4 linked regions of the Homo sapiens genome follow. The protein of the gene in region 1 purifies or fractionates together with the protein of each later gene. This does not show direct contact. Each region holds a gene or a part of one and is shown on either strand. Other genes may lie near its edges.

What was found.
Region 2: the proteins of PCDHB6 (region 1) and TMEM131 purify together in Homo sapiens (affinity purification with mass spectrometry; one large-scale study listed by BioGRID and IntAct). This does not show direct contact.
Region 3: the proteins of PCDHB6 (region 1) and PWWP3A purify together in Homo sapiens (affinity purification with mass spectrometry; one large-scale study listed by BioGRID and IntAct). This does not show direct contact.
Region 4: the proteins of PCDHB6 (region 1) and ST7L purify together in Homo sapiens (affinity purification with mass spectrometry; one large-scale study listed by BioGRID and IntAct). This does not show direct contact.

The regions. Positions count from the first base shown.
Region 1 is NC_000005.10:141,148,691-141,153,174, reverse strand, and holds the start of PCDHB6 (protocadherin beta-6 isoform 1 precursor), read right to left. Parts: upstream 3,119-4,484; 5' UTR 2,918-3,118; coding exon 533-2,917; 3' UTR 1-532. UniProt on the Homo sapiens protein: Calcium-dependent cell-adhesion protein involved in cells self-recognition and non-self discrimination. Thereby, it is involved in the establishment and maintenance of specific neuronal connections in the brain.
Region 2 is NC_000002.12:97,989,449-97,993,225, forward strand, and holds part of TMEM131 (transmembrane protein 131 precursor), read right to left. Parts: intron 1-3,777.
Region 3 is NC_000019.10:1,361,182-1,364,958, reverse strand, and holds part of PWWP3A (PWWP domain-containing DNA repair factor 3A), read right to left. Parts: intron 2,710-3,777; coding exon 2,608-2,709; intron 451-2,607; coding exon 380-450; intron 1-379. UniProt on the Homo sapiens protein: Involved in the DNA damage response pathway by contributing to the maintenance of chromatin architecture.
Region 4 is NC_000001.11:112,528,642-112,532,418, forward strand, and holds part of ST7L (suppressor of tumorigenicity 7 protein-like), read right to left. Parts: intron 1,525-3,777; exon of another isoform or gene 1-1,524.

The DNA.
Region 1 (4,484 bases):
AGTAAAGTCTATAGTCACAAAAATTTTGGATTGACTATTATGGGATACTAAAATATGCATAAGTATGAATGGCTACTTTAGTGTTTAGCCATCATTAGTTCTTATTTTTAGTGTTACACACTGTAGGAGTTACTGCAAAATGAGACATTGGAGGATTAAATAATATCAGATACTCACATTTTAAACAGTCCTACATAGCAATAGTGAAACAACTCTTACCAATAGCTAGAAATACAATTTTACTTAAGGATTTACAATACTTTTTTTTGGGGGGGGGAAGAATAGATAATTTAATTTCAAAAGCTTAAAATTATGCAAATAAAAATTTACTTTTTGTTCATATTGTCAAGTACCCTCAAGTGAAGTAATAAACTACTAAGCATGAACAGGAAATACTAAGATACCAGTATCTTACTTTATATAAAATTTCAACCTAAAGAATAGAGGTAAAATAAACAAGAAACAGACCATGTAACTTTAAGTTAAAAGAGATCTCCAAACATAAGTAAGATTTAGTAAAATAATCCCACACTTAACTGAACGGGAAGCTATTCCGAGAGGTGGGGGTTTCTTCCATTTCTCTCTCAGTGCCCTGAGGAGGGAAGTTGGGCATAATCGGCTTCAGGAACTTGAACTCATTTGTTTCTGAGCCTCCCGTCAGACACACCTTGTACTGGTAGCTCTGGGATAGGGTCCCGGTGCCGCTCACATCCACCAGATGCCCTGGAAAGGGACCCTCGGGCACCGAGTAGCGACCCACCGAGGCCGCCCTGCTCCTCCTGCACAGCCGCACCGCCACGAACAGGAGCACCGAAAAGAGGAAGAGCGACGACACCGAGGCCAACGCCACCACCAGGTAGACGGTGAGAGAGTCGGCCTGGGCTTGGGCCGGGGCCGCCTCAGGGAGAGGCAGGTAGGGCTGGGAGAAGCCGTCCACCAGGAGCACGTGCAGCGTGGCGGTGGCCGAGCGCGGAGGCTCGCCATTGTCCTTGACAAGCACCACCAGCCTGTGCTTGGCTGCGTCTCGCTCGCTCAGCAGCCTGGCGGTGCGCACCTCGCCATTGTGCGCCCACACGCCGAACAGACCGAGCTCCGTGGCCTTGAGCAGCTGGTACGACAGCCAGGCGTTCTGGCCCGAGTCGCCGTCCACCGCCACCACCTTGGTCACCAGGTAGCCCGGCTCGGCCGCCCGGGGCACCAGCTCGGTGCAGGGCGCGGAGCCGTTCTGCAGCGGGTACAACACGAAGGGCGAGTTGTCGTTGGCGTCCAGCACCAGCAAGCGCACCAGCGCCTCGCTGCTCAACGCCGGGGAGCCGCGGTCTGTGGCGCCCACGCGGAACTCGAAAGACTGCAGGGCCTCGTAGTCCAGCGACCTGAGGGCAAACAGGTGGCCGTTGTCCGCGTTGATGGAGACCAGGGAAGAGAGGGGCAGGTGCGGGTCCTGGGGCGGCAGCAGCGAGTAGGTGACCTGGGCGTTGATGCCTGAGTCTCTGTCTGTGGCGCTGACGCTGCCGATGTGCAGGGCGGGGCTGTTGTTCTCGCGGACGAACAGGGTGTAGGAGGTTTGGGTGAAGGCGGGGGCGTTGTCATTGACGTCGGAGACCTGCACAGTTATGCTCTGCTGGGTTTTCAGCCTTGGTGTCCCCAAATCAGTGACCGTGATAGTGATGTTGTACTCGGCTCTGCTCTCTCTGTCCAGCGCGCCTTCTGTTACCAGGGTGTAGAAATTCTCCACGGAAGGTCTTAGTAGAAAGGGGAGATTGTTCTCTATTGAACAAATAACCTGTTGGTTATGTCCAGAGTCTGCATCTGAAACACTGAAAACTGCCACTGTGATCTCTGGTAAGTTTTCTGGGATGAGGCTGATGAAGAACGACATGGTGAGTTCAGGGGCATTGTCATTCACGTCCAGGACCCTGACGACTAAAGAGCATTTTCCTGATAGGCCTCCACCATCTGTAGCCTCAACATCCACGTCATAAGACTGAATTTCCTCAAAATCCAAAGCCTTTCTCAGCCGAATTTCTCCTGTGATTGCGTTTATTTCGAAGGGTTGGTTGACGTCATCGACTTGAAACAGGGCGTAAGATACCTTCCCAAACGATCCTGCATCTAAATCTCTGGCTGAGACGGTAATAACCAGAGAGCCGAGGGGGTTGTTCTCAGGGACTTGTGCTTCATAGAGCTCCTGAGCAAACTCGGGGACGTTGTCATTGATGTCCAAAACCTGGATCTGAATCTCGGAGGTCCCTGACCGGGGCGGAGACCCGCCATCCAGCGCGATCAGCGTTAGCCTGAGTTGGGGCTGCTCCTCGCGGTCCAACGGTTTGTCTAGCACCAGCTCCGGGAACTTCCTGCCTTCGCTGCGATTGCGGGTGAGAACGTGGAAGTGAGGGTTGGAGCTGATTGTGTACCTCTGAAGGCCGTTGCTGCCGGTGTCTAAATCGTGTGCCATTTTCAAAGGAAATATCTTTCCTGGCATAGTAATTTCTGATATTTTCAGGAGCATTTCTCTGGCAGGGAATTCCGGGGCGTGGTCATTTATATCTCTGACTCGCAAGGAAGCCTGAAAAAACTGCAAGGGGTTTTCCAGTAACACTTGGAAAGGTAGCACACACGGCTCAGTGGAGCCACACAGCTCCTCCCGGTCCAGTTTTTCATTTAGCAGTAAATCATGGGTCTGTGGATCAAACTGCAAATGTTGTCTGTTCCCTTTGAAAACAACCCGAGCGCCCCGCGAAGCCAGCTCCCCCACCCTCAGTCCCAGGTCCTTTGTCAAGTTGGCCACAAACGTGCCACTTTCTGTCTCCTCCAATACGGAATACTGAATCGATTCAGAACCCACCTCTCCCCAAAGCATCAATAAAATGAAGAAAGCCACTTGCCTTTTCTTGTTCTGTACTTTAGTTTGCATCATGTCTATTATGTCTGAATACGGAAGAAAAATCCTTTTCAGCTCCCAATCACCACATCTACCGTCGACCCTCTCGGATGTCTTTGCAGAGATTTTTAAATTCGTTCTTACAACTTGTCTGGCGACGACTGCCTTCCCGGACACATCTATCTCAGCTTTAGCTGTAAACGTGGTCTGTATTTTTACTTGGCTTCTGGATGAAACGGAGTCCACCGAGTCTGCAGAGCTTTCATTCACTCTCTTAGCTTGTACCGCCACCACGCGTTCAAACTAATAACTTCATGAGATGTTTTCAGGTCAATAGCATTTCAGAAATCTGAGCATTATAAAGACTTTTAAGTCGAGTCAGTGTTTCTCAAACTGAGTGCGTGGACCGCATGCATAAATAATTGCTTGCGAGCGTTGGTTTTTTTGTGTGTATGTTTTTGTTTTTAAGCCAATTCCTGGGTTCACTCCCCTCTAGAACTTGAATCAAATTCCCTGGTGGTGCTAATTAAGGAGAAAGATTGAAGTGCAGATTCTACACTTCAGTCTTTCTCCTTTGATGCTTCAGCAGTGCAATTTATCTCTGATGAACTATTTAATCTATTAGTCCAAGAGGTACACTATTTAATTGTCCCAACAAACAATGCAAAACAACGAAGTTTGTTAGCAACAATAATGGTAAAATAAACAATAAATTATCTAAATTATATGACTCATAAATGGCATGAAAAAAAAAACCTACTTTGTTATATAGTTATGCCTGCACAGTAAAAAGAACAATTAGGCTATTAGGAGGAAAACTGAGGCCAAGAAGTACGTATGATACATGTATCTAAGTAAATTAAAGTATTTAAAAGAGGGACTAGAAGCAATCAAGTAGTTGTCATAAGCATTTTAGGATTCTACTCCATTTTTGCATGGATAGAATTAGACATTGTTTTAACAGTCTTGTGCATTTTATTTTTTGATCAAATTCCCCTCTTACATTATTTAATCAAGGTCCAAATATATTACCGTGTTGTACAAACATGATGCAACACAGAAAACAAACATTCAAGAATCACCTTCACCGTCTTCTCACAGCAAAAAGAACACCAAGTCCAATAAATACAGGCCAAATTAAGGTACTGTTAAAACAGGTGAGTTACATTTGAGTGAATGCCATGGAATTCAATGATGGAATATTATGGCTATATCCATTCCCATCTCACTAGTTTCTACTCAGATACATTGGAACATGTATCTCTAAACAAACTGAAAATGTGTGAAATAGATTAGTGCACATAGAAGAGGTAAAATATGCCAAACAATTCAATTCATTTCAGATTAATTTCATATTTATTGAGAGGTGAAATCAATTGAGTTCAAACAAAGTTCACTTCAGGTAAGGGCCAAGGTGATAGAAGATTAAAAATCAAGATATTTTCAAATACATAAATGCTAGGCAAAACAAATAAGGCTAAATAAAATCTAAACTCTGAATAGCTGAGATGATCTTGTAGTTCAAAATCACCTCTATGTAGCCAGAAAAACAAAAGATTATGAATGTGACCAGCCTCCAGGGTTCACTTGATAGATGCTACTG
Region 2 (3,777 bases), on another chromosome or scaffold:
CTGGGGGTGGGGATTAAGGGTAGGGAGAGAAATAGGAAGTTGTTTAATGGGTATAGACTTCCAGCTTTACATGAAGAAGTTCTGAAGATCTGCTACACAACAACGTGAATACACTTAACACCACTGAACTGTACATATAAAAATGGTTAAGTATTTTGTTATGTGTTTTTTTCACCAAGTTTCTAGAAAATAAATAAATGAAAATAAATAAAAACGTAGGTTTCATACTCTATCATGACTGACCATCTAAAAGATCCTCTTAAACATCAAACCTCTGCCCTAAAACGGCAGAGTTGTATGCAACAAAATCAATCAGGCAAATGGCAAAGGCTTTCTAGAAACCCTCCATCTGTGGTTTTAAAAGTAATCACATGGGAATTAAAAAACAACAACAACAAAACAGATTTGGAACTACAGATGAGAACTAATGACCACCTAATTCCAAAATGCCCTAATAAGAACAAAGCACCTTTGAACTTCTTCTGGAGCCCTTGGACCTCTAATGGAAGTCTGCGAGAGATTTCTGCCTGCCGAGGCAAATGCCACTACCAGCCCTTGCATTATCTCCAGCTCCTGTTAGTCCAGGGCCAGCTTCTGAGAATATTCCACAAGTCTAGACTAACTCATCACACCAATCTGGAGCTAAGCAGTATCTACAGAAGGCAATATTGCTTAACCTTAGCAATACAACCAGGTATCTAAGTCATCAAGAACAAAGAGACAGTAGCTTCGAATACCAAATATTCATTTCCCTGTATTATCCACTCACTGGTTTCCTTTTAAGAACCTTCATGATCCAGAATGGCCTGTGATTACTTAAACTGTTAACAAGTCAACAGAAAGTGATATGAAAGCTTGTGGCTGATTGAAAAAAAAAAAAAGTACATTTTACTTGAATACTAATACATGGGTTTTGCATGAACTGTCAAGTCTGTTCTTTTTGCAGTTGGTACAATATAACAAAATCTAATTCCTGAAGTGCTCATTTGGGGTTACATAGTTTGGCTCAAGGGACAGATGTCTTAGGGCGGAATCCTGGCTCCACTATTTACCAGCCCTATCACGCTGGGTATATTACTTAACCTCTCTAAGCCTCAGTTTCATGATCTCTAGATTAGGGTTTTATGAGAATCTGAAAATCTTAAAATCAAAAAGTTATAAAAGTGATGGTTTAGATAAGTGTATACAACTCCTTTTAGTTACAAGGAAAAGCAACATGTGGGGAAGAAAAAACTGGTGTTACTCAATGTCCTACTATAGCAGACTTCCTCATGACATCTGCACCAGAACTGAATTTTACCTGTACTTCTGACTCTCAGGTTCTCAGGTATAAAAAGTCCTATGCACTTTTTTCATATGCTTTGTAAATAGTTTTGTACTGTGTTTTGCACCTACGTCACAAATACAGCTTAAAACAAAAATTTGTGCATGAAACTATAGTACACTGGCAAAAAATTTTAAAAGTCCTAATAAAGGCTGTCAAACGTTACTCTGCCATTTAATTGCCAATTGATAGAACATGTGACTATGAAATTTAAATTGTCATAGGTTGAAACACTCTTGAAAATTTATTCGAATTTATATTTACTAGATACATAAACTATAGCTTCTCATTTATAATAAATTAAATGCCTTCCAAAAACCCACTTCACAATGAAATTATATTACAATGAAAGTTTAGGCAAACTTTCAATCAAAACTGAATGCCTGCTATTTATGTACTACAGATGTTGACAAAGGTTCTGCCCTACAGAAATTCCAGCCTAGGTGAAGAATGACACCCCTGAAATCATTTAAGTAGCTAACAAGGCAGTACACAATTAGGTGTCAAAATGAATGATGAATGATTAACAAAGACCACAAATTCAGAGGGAGCATGCAGGACTGAACAGAAATGGCGAAAGGCGGTAGGAGAGAGGCTGCTGCAGTGCCCCATGGTGAAGGCAGTGGGAGAGTGATCAAAAGAGGATGTAACAGGCACTGATGCCACTTGGTGAAGGGTCAAAACTGAATCCAGTGGGGCAGGCAGAATAATCATAGCATTAATAAAAAACTGAAAACTGGAGGTGGCGCAAGATAATTCTGCCCTGGACACATGCAGTGTGCACCAGCAGCTAGACACACACAGGGAGGAAGACAACCAACAGGCAATTGGAGAGCAGCAACTGTCAGCTAGGGCACAACCAGAACCGAGAAGTACAGAGTCACCGAAACAATGCCAGATGCTGCTTACAAGAGACCGTAGGGGAAAATTCAGCTGTAGGAAAAGGGCCTCTTGGTCTGGCAAGGCCAATCAGAGCGCTTGAGTCACATATAGGCAAGAGAGAGAACACCTAAAATATCAAGCACCTAGCAAAGATTTTATTTTCCTCCAAGAGTAATTTGGCTTATTGCTACTCTGGATAGTAACAATTAGATGAGTTTACATCTACTCCCAAAGCAATCTTGTTGGCAGATGTCTATGAGGGTCCACTGTAAGAATTAGAAGGAGGAGGAAAATGGTCATTAGCAAGAGGAAAAAAGGACACACTTTTTCCAACTACAAAACTCCAATGCTCCATCAGGCAACAGCCTTTAGTAAAAGCAGGCTACAAACGTTCATTAGTGAAGCACTTATTAAATAACATTCTATTTACAAGGCCCTAAATTAAAAGGTACCCACTCTACCCCATACAAAGGGTTAACACATCTCACTCTTAAGAAAATCACTTTCAAAAACATTTTAACATTATCGAGTAATAAGTAGGTTAAAAATAGTTTGGTTAAGAAAAAGTAAATAACACTCCTAGTCAATTTGGCTACCCTTAGAAAACTATTAGATTCTTATCTGTTTTCTTGTGGTCTTTAGTCCTATGCACTTTTCTCATATGCTTTGTAAATACTTTTGTACTGTGTTTTGCACCTATGTCACAAATACAGCTTAAAACAAAAATTTGTGCATGAAACTATAGTACACTGGCAAAAAATTTTTAAAGTCCTAATAAAGGCTGTCAAACGTTACCCTGCCATTTAATTGCCAATTAATAAAACATGTGACAATGAAATTTAAATTGTCATAAATTGAAACATTCTTGAAAACTTATTCGAATTTATATTTACTAGATACATAAACTATAGCTTCTCATTTATAATAAATGCCTTCCAAAAACCCACTTCACAATGAAATTATATTACATGATATATAATGCTTTTTTAAAAAAGGTCTTATTTGCCAGTCATAATGGGCTGCTTTATAATTCAAAAGACTACTAAAAGTATACATTTAATATATACACATACACATGTATTTTCACTATATATTTTAAAAATATATTTTCACAACTCACACACATTTTTGCTATTCTCAGTATCTAGATGTTAGCCTCAAGACAAAATCTTGCCACCAATCTAGAACTAGTTATTTGTAGTGATTATAACAACTTCTATCTCTGGAAACTCTTTCAAAGTCCTTACAAACTTTACATCACAGCCAAAACCATCTCAAAGGTACCTTTCCTCTGGACTAGTGATAGCACACTCCCATAGCTCAGTTAAGTCATATAGGATGTTAAGACAAGGAATGGTCCATGCTTCTGACTCAAGAAAATCAACATCAAGTCCAAACATGAAAAACTACATTAGGTAATTTATTTCTGCAGCTTTTCTTCAGGAGACAATGAGTTTTATTGTCTTTTAAAGATTTTGCAGTGAAATTATACAGTAATGAAGGAAAAGAAATACAAACATACAAAATACCTGCAGAATCATCATTAAAACTGCAGGTAAATCTTAACTTTG
Region 3 (3,777 bases), on another chromosome or scaffold:
TTAGTAGAGTCAGGGTTTCACCATGTTGGCCAGGCTGGTCTCGAACTCCCGACCTCAGGTGATCCACCCACTTCGGCCTCCCAAAGTGCTGGGATTACAGGCATGAACCACTGCACCCGGCCGCAAATATTTTTTTCGAGTAGGTCTTTCTAAGCCTGCTTGGTGAAAATGTGGCCTATCAACTTAACACCATTGTGCCTTAATTTAGGTACAGGCATCTCCTGAAGTCTTTTCTAAAAACCCACCAACTTTTCCCAGGAAAAACAAAACAATGAAAACATTTATCCTGATCAAATTATCAAGAACTAAAGATGGATGGAATAAAAATTCATGAAATTTAAGTAACTACATCTGAGAAGACGGAGGAAGCTGTTCTTACCACTGCTGGCCAGAAGGGGTATTTTTTATGTTTATGCCAGACTAGCATTCCTACTTCAAACGAACGTGGTTCTAGAATTAAAGAAAAAAGAAAAACAAAAAAAAAAGAATAGACAAGTCAAATCCATATCAAGCACCAGGTGTAACAGCCTGAGAAAACACAGTTAGCACGATATTGTTAAAACCTGACTTTGTGTCATTCGCTTAAAAGATCAGGAGAATCTGAAAGGCAGATTCACATACCCCACACTACTTGAGTCTAACCACCAATGATGAGACAGTGAAACCAGCAGCTGAGTGGGGTGCTGCACTGGGTTCCCAGCTGCGACAAACGCACCCTTGGGATGGGAGGGGTGCCACGAGGGGCGGCTGGGGCTCTGTCCTATGTGTGCGCGACTTTCCTAACTCTAAACCCCGCGGGAAGACACTTTTAAAGAGTGTGTGGCACAAAACAGAGGTGAGGTAATGGCACGCGGAGAAGACCCAAACACAAGGACTGAGATTCTAAAGAGGATTCTGGGAAACTACAGTCAAAAATGGGAAAATTATTTAAATCATAACTAGAAACTATTTATGAATGAAATATTTTCAATGCCAAAAAACAAGTGAATTATTTAAAATTTTAAAACTAAAGTATTAGAAAAACTACTGGAAACAGTCTGTCGTTAGACACACAAAGCCTGTGTCTGACCGCACTGTGGAAGGAAGGAAGTGCCGTGGTCCATAAACACAGATCAAAACCTAAAGGCCTATGAAGTAACCAACGTGACCAGAGAAAAAGGGAGGCCCACTGGGGTGAGTGTCTGCTGTGAACATGGCACAGCGTCGTTTCCCCAGTGAGGGGCATTTAGTCTTTAAGAGAAACTTCCAGGCCCACGTGGACAAACAATCAATTCAGAGGCCGGTCAGGGAACCCTCAGAAAGACGCCCAGCCTGACAGGTAGAAAACAAAACCAAACGGGAGCAAAACCCAGCTCCCACCGCAGGCAGGAGAAGCCAGGCAGCACCAGCCTCTGTATGTCCCGGTGACCCAACCCCAGTGGGGCAGCGTGGTCGGAAAGGGCCCTTCCCGAGGGCACTGTGCTCTTCGTGTGTGCGAACGGATCCTGCAGAAATGATTTCCTGGAAGTCCCCAATGGGTGCCCCACAGCACCTGCGGTCCTGGGACCATCCAGACAGGTGCCCAATGGGTGGGGCAGGGTTTGGTGAGTGGTGACTGCTCACCCCAGAGGAAAAGGATCAGAAGAGCATGTGGAAAACTGTTAAAAAGTCTGACCATTAGCATTAGGCAAAAAAAAGGGAAAATGTGAGACTGTAATGAAGCCCTTTCAATGATGGAAAAGCACTCAAACAGTGTAGACAAAAAAAGAACGACATAACAAGGCCACCGGCACGCAAGTGTGCGTGGAATGGCGCTCCCGAGGCTGCACACGCACCAGCTTCCTGGCCGGGGACATCCTGCGCCTTACGGATGCTGCCAGTGGGGAAGCCCGGGTGAGAAGCCCCCTCACCTCCCTTTACTATTTTTGCAACATCCTGTGAATCTATAATTATTCTGAAACTAGAAGGTTAAAGAAAAGAAAAACAAGACTTGGTTAAGAGGAATGGTTCACGGGCGAGTCTCAAGTGGGGCTGGTTCTTGTGACTTGGTTTGCGAAGCCGACTTTCTGTTCGCGGCTGGCTCAGATCTTTGGGTCTCTCATTTCTAGTCCCTTCCACGTAGATGCTCAGGGGCACCTAAAGGCAGGTTTTCCTCTAGTGCAAGCAGCTACTTACAGGAGGGGCGCGGGAGCAGTTCACTCTTGGGCTGAAGGCCCTGCCTCCCTGGACAGCCCCCCAAACGCCATCACCAACGGAAGCCGCGAGACAGTACGTGGCCACACCCGAGCAATGGCGACGCAGCCCCTCGGCTCACTGGGCCATCCCTCACTCCCCGCGAGGGGACAGGAGGACAAGGGCTTGAGGTAAGTGACAGGAGTAATGCTCTAACAGGGAGGGCTGGGCCGTCTCTTCCCAGGAGTCTCTCGTCCCTTTGTGTAGGTTATTCTTAAGATAGAGGACTGAAAACGTGACACTTCTGAAGGTCCCTTCCAGGTCTCGGTTCAGTGGGAGAGAAATGAACTCGCAGGAGACCTTTCATGGAGAATGTGGGGCCCGGTCTCGGAGCCCCGCCGCCGCTGCCTCTGAGCGCACCGTTAGGACTGCCGGCGCCCCCTGATCATTTCTTACCGTGGTATAAAAGGACTCTTGGTGGCTCCTCGTCTTCCTCGTCTTCCTCCAGGATAGAACGCATGGAATTAGACCCCATGGACTCTTCGGAAGACTGGCACTCTGCCAATAATGTGATATTAGACTTTCATGGTCATTGCATTGTCTTGATGACTCATCCCAAGAAAACATTTCATGACACATGACCATCGATGCATAAAGAAAAGGTTCCATGCTATACACAACTCCACACTGCCAAATTCAAACAGAGTGCGCTTCTAATAAACTACATTTTAAAGAAAAACGCAAGAGGGAAGGAGGGAAGGAGGGAAGGAGGGAGGGAGAGAGGCCTGCGGTGAAGGGAAGGCGGGCCGTAAGCAGCAGCCACCTCGGCCACAGAAGCTGCGCGCACCCTGGGTGGGAATCCCTTTTGTCCCGGCCTGGCTGTCCCTTCACATCTGAAGCAATCAGTGGATATGCAGGGAGGGGGCCAGGACAGGAGCTGACTATAGAACAGGGTAGGGGTGCGGATACGCAGGGAGGGGGCCAGGACGGGAGCTGACTATGGAACAGGACAGAGGTGCGGATACGCAGGGAGGGGGCCGGGACGGGAGCTGACTATGGAACAGGGTAGGGGTGCGGTCACTTTGTCTTCAGAGCGTGGCAACCTCAGTTCCCTGCCGCTTCCAACGTGCTAAGGAGATGATGACCTCAGGAAAGAAGTTCAGAGTACAGACTGAAATATCTGCGCGGTAAGTTTGTAGCAAGTAGATTTCCAGACATTTGATCATGTGGTAATTAAGATTTCTGAACTAGCATTTAAAAAATAAAGGATGCTACAGTGTTAAAAGGAAAAAAGTCACAGTGCTTGCCTGCAACCACACAAAAATATATCTGCACAGGAATTCTTTAAAAAGTCAGTCTTTTGAGTGAGTGAATCACTTTTGAGATTGCTGCCCAATTTAATAGGAATGCGTTACTGCTTCCGTTAAAAGAGTTAATCCTCGGGGTGCAGCCGCAGCTGCGGCCTCAGCACAGCCACAATGCTCCCAGCCGCGCCGCAGACAATCGTGGCCCGCCGCCCCTCTACGGGCTCCCCACTCACTCAACTCCCTTCCCTTCTAAACAAAAATAAGAAGACAAATATTTAGAAGTTGAAGCAATTATAGCCCAGTGGGGAGACAGACAAAA
Region 4 (3,777 bases), on another chromosome or scaffold:
AACCTGGCATAAATCAAGCCAAACCCTTAAGAAATTAGAATGTGAAAAGAAAATAATTTAAAATAGAAAATACATGCTGCTTTTCCTCACTCCCAAACTTAAAACTTGACTGGTCCTACATATTCTACTTGGTATATTGAATTTTTGCAGCTAGCAGATTTATCGTATCTGAGGCCATAGTGAATAGAAGAGCTGCAAAAGAGCTTTAGAGACTGCAAAACCAGCTCACTAATAAATGAGGAACTTTATTCTAATTTACTACCAGGGGCTGAAGTAGCAGCCAAAGAAGGAGACAAATTCTAACTTCATGATCTCTAGTTAGGTGTCTATTTTCCTGCATTTGCTAAAGGTAAAAATCGCTACTTATGGGGCTTTTGTCATACTTCTTAACCAAACTTCCCTAACTTCTGAGGATAAAAACCATAAGGGCAATCTTATTCTTCCAAAGCAGTTCCCTGGTGCCACTTTCAGAAACAGAGTATTGAACTATGGGTCTGACCCAGTGTGGCACTGAGTGTGTGTGTGTTTGTGTGTTTGTGTGTGTGTGTACACTGAATAAGCCAAAACGTGTGCCATATTCTAGGTTTCTGCTTTACTTAACTGGCAAAATTTGGTGCTGTAAGGGAGGCAGCCACAAAACCAGTGATAGCATTTGTTAGTATCATCTTAGTTCTCTTCCCTCCCCTAGGTAGTTTATAAAGGGTGATTTCTGAAACCCTTCACAAAAGAAAAGCTCAAGGGTTTACATTCAACTGTGACAGCACTATGAATTCATTAAGAAGCATGTTTCAGGTTGCACTGTAATTTCCCTATGTAATACAAACCCATGGAATCTGACATAAGCTGATTGCTCATGCTGGTTGTTTTATTTACATTTCTGAATGGAAAGGATTTCAATACTCATAAAATATCTAACTGGCTTATTTTTCATCTGTTCTCCCAGAGAAGCTATTATAAGATAGGCATAGAGACAGAAGTCTCAACTTGTATAACTGGTTAAGCAACCAGGGAAATGTTATTGCTCAAAATGCAATTTTAAAAAATTCAATATGGAACTTGAGGCCAAAAAAACAGAAGGTTACTCTCAATGCCATCCAAAAGATAAAAGTTAAAAAAAAAAAAAAAAAAAAAGGTAACTATGCTCATTATTTTCAACCAAGTTCTATGGAGGTGGTACCTTCACAGGAGCTCAGTGGAACTGGGGTTTACTTACATCTTTTTTCTGGGAACCTAATGTTAGCAGACACAGTTGCTAGTTTGAACAGGAATGCAGATGAATGGATGAAAGTGGGCTCCCTACCACCCAGAAATATGAATGTGCCTCCTTACCAATATGCTACAAATCAGACCTCTGAATTAGAAGATGCCATCATGCAACTAACTTACTATCTGGAGATGTGTATTTTGTTAACCTAGGCAAAGAATAACAATTTCTGCTTATTCCAGTAGGTGTGACAAGCTCAGAGAAGTGAGCGACAAGCTAGAGAAGTAATAATTACCAATAAAGTAAATTCCAAAGCCGAATCCCCAGTTTTCTGCCTCCAAGTTGTTGTTCAAATAGTTTATCTTCCTTTCTTCTACTGCAACACTAGTTTAATCAGTACATTCTACAACTCTCTAGTATTATTATAATATTTGCATGAGTAGTTTAGAATTTAGCCTTGGGCCTGCTCTTCTACCATTTTACCATATTTACTGATTACATTTTACCATATTTTACCATATTTACTGATTACATGCCTAATTTGTATAAACTCAAGGAGAGGTTCTGTGCCTTTTTGTTTGTTTTTTGAGATGGATTCTCGCTCTGTCACTAGGGCTGGAGTGCAGTGGCGTGATCTTGGCTCACTGCAACCTTCGCCTCCCAGGTTCAAGCAATTCTCCTGCCTCAGCCTCCTGAGTAGCTGGGATTACAGGCGCCTGCCACCACATCAGGCTAATTTTTGTGTTTTTAGTAGAGACAAGGTTTCACCATGTTGGCCAGGCTGGTCTCAAACTCCTGACCTCAGATGATCTACCCACCTCGGCCTCCCAAAGTGTTGGGATTACAGGAGTGAGCCACCGCACCCAGCCTCTGTGCCTATTTTAAAACATATATCCCAAAGTCATATCCCCAGTGATCCAGCTAGTCTGTTACTTTAATGAGACAGCTCAATAAAGATAGGAAATATTTTTTCAGTTACTTAAAGAGAAAATAATACTGGTGGTTCTCCCTGTAAAGAGGTAGAATTGCCAAAAAATGCAGAATTGATCAGCAAAACCCAGCTATAAAGAAAGGGCAAAAGGAACTTTATTTTAGTGCCTTATCCCAATATCCTTTTATTTAGTTTTTTGATTAACATGATGTGTGCCTATTTTCAGAATCAGTGACTGCCAGCTGCAGCTCTTGACATTATCAAGTGAGCTCTGGAAAATTCTGGGTAGCTCTTTCCTATTCTCTCACATGCCCAAAGAACTAAGTAATTTTGGTCCTAACTCTTACTATTCTATTCTTCTTCACATGAAATCACATTGTTTCATACTGAAAACCAGGATGGCTATTAGTTCTTATTAATCTGTCATTATTAGGAATGAGAGGATATAAAAGAGGTATATAAAATGTATGAGTGTAGAGCTTTTGTCTAAGGCAATTACTCTGTGAATCTGAGGTGAGACATTTCTTAAATTTTGAATTGTGGAGCTCTCCATTTTTTGATAAATTATATTCATATAAACATTATAATAAATAACACTGCTTACAAAAAGATGAATTCCAGCTGCTGAGTATAAAGATGAAAGTACTCCACATCACATATTTGGAAAAGAATAAAGATATCTCTTTCTATATGTTCTTGCTTGACCTAACCGAATAAATTCTTCTGAAAGGAAGCATAATCTATTAGTCTAGACTGACCTTTTGGGTCACTATATCTTACGGGAGCCGTGTGAAAATAACTCACCATTCCCTTCCAGTCAAATAAATGAATATTCAAGGATGAACTCATCTATTGTGGCAATAGCTTCCACCTTATACTAATACATCTTCATGCCCATCTCAAACCCCCTACCACTAGACTATGAGTTACTTATGAACAGGGATTATATTTTATACTTCACAGGTACCCAATGAATTTGAAATGCAAAGACCTGTTATATGTTATAGGACAATCATTACCATATTTTAGCATGTTATAGGACAATTAAAACCATGTTTTAATTTGCTGAGGCTCTTTACAAATCTAAACTTTGAAAACAAATCAAGACAGGCCCTATTGGAGTCCTTCCATTCAATAAGCCAACATTCAAAGAAGACTCTTTTCAGGTTATCCAGGACTCTCTGAACTGCATGTTCTACTGCAGTTTTTGTTTTTTGTTTTTTAAAGGTGGTATTACAAGAGCTAAAATTCACCAAGGGCAAATTAGTAAGAAAAGTCTTCACAGCTAGGGCTTAGCCAAATTAGAATCCCTGGGCTCGCAATAAGGGCTAAACCCCTAAAGGGATCAGAGTCTAATAAATAAAAAACATCCAGCTGAATTTTATCAGAGGGCAAAGTTTCAACTTTGAGTGCCCCAGCAACCAAGGATGAATTATGCATAAGATTAGTAAAGTGCCTTCGTCCACACCCTAGACAGAGAACATTTTTCTATCTCACTGTGACTGAAGGAAAACCAGCAATGTATTTGCCTGCCAAGAACAGCTGTGGCTGTACTCTTGATAGGAGTCTAACAACACTGTCGGATTAAAATTTAATTGTAAAGCTGCTGCTACCTGGGAGTAAAAGCATGAGCTCTGGCTTC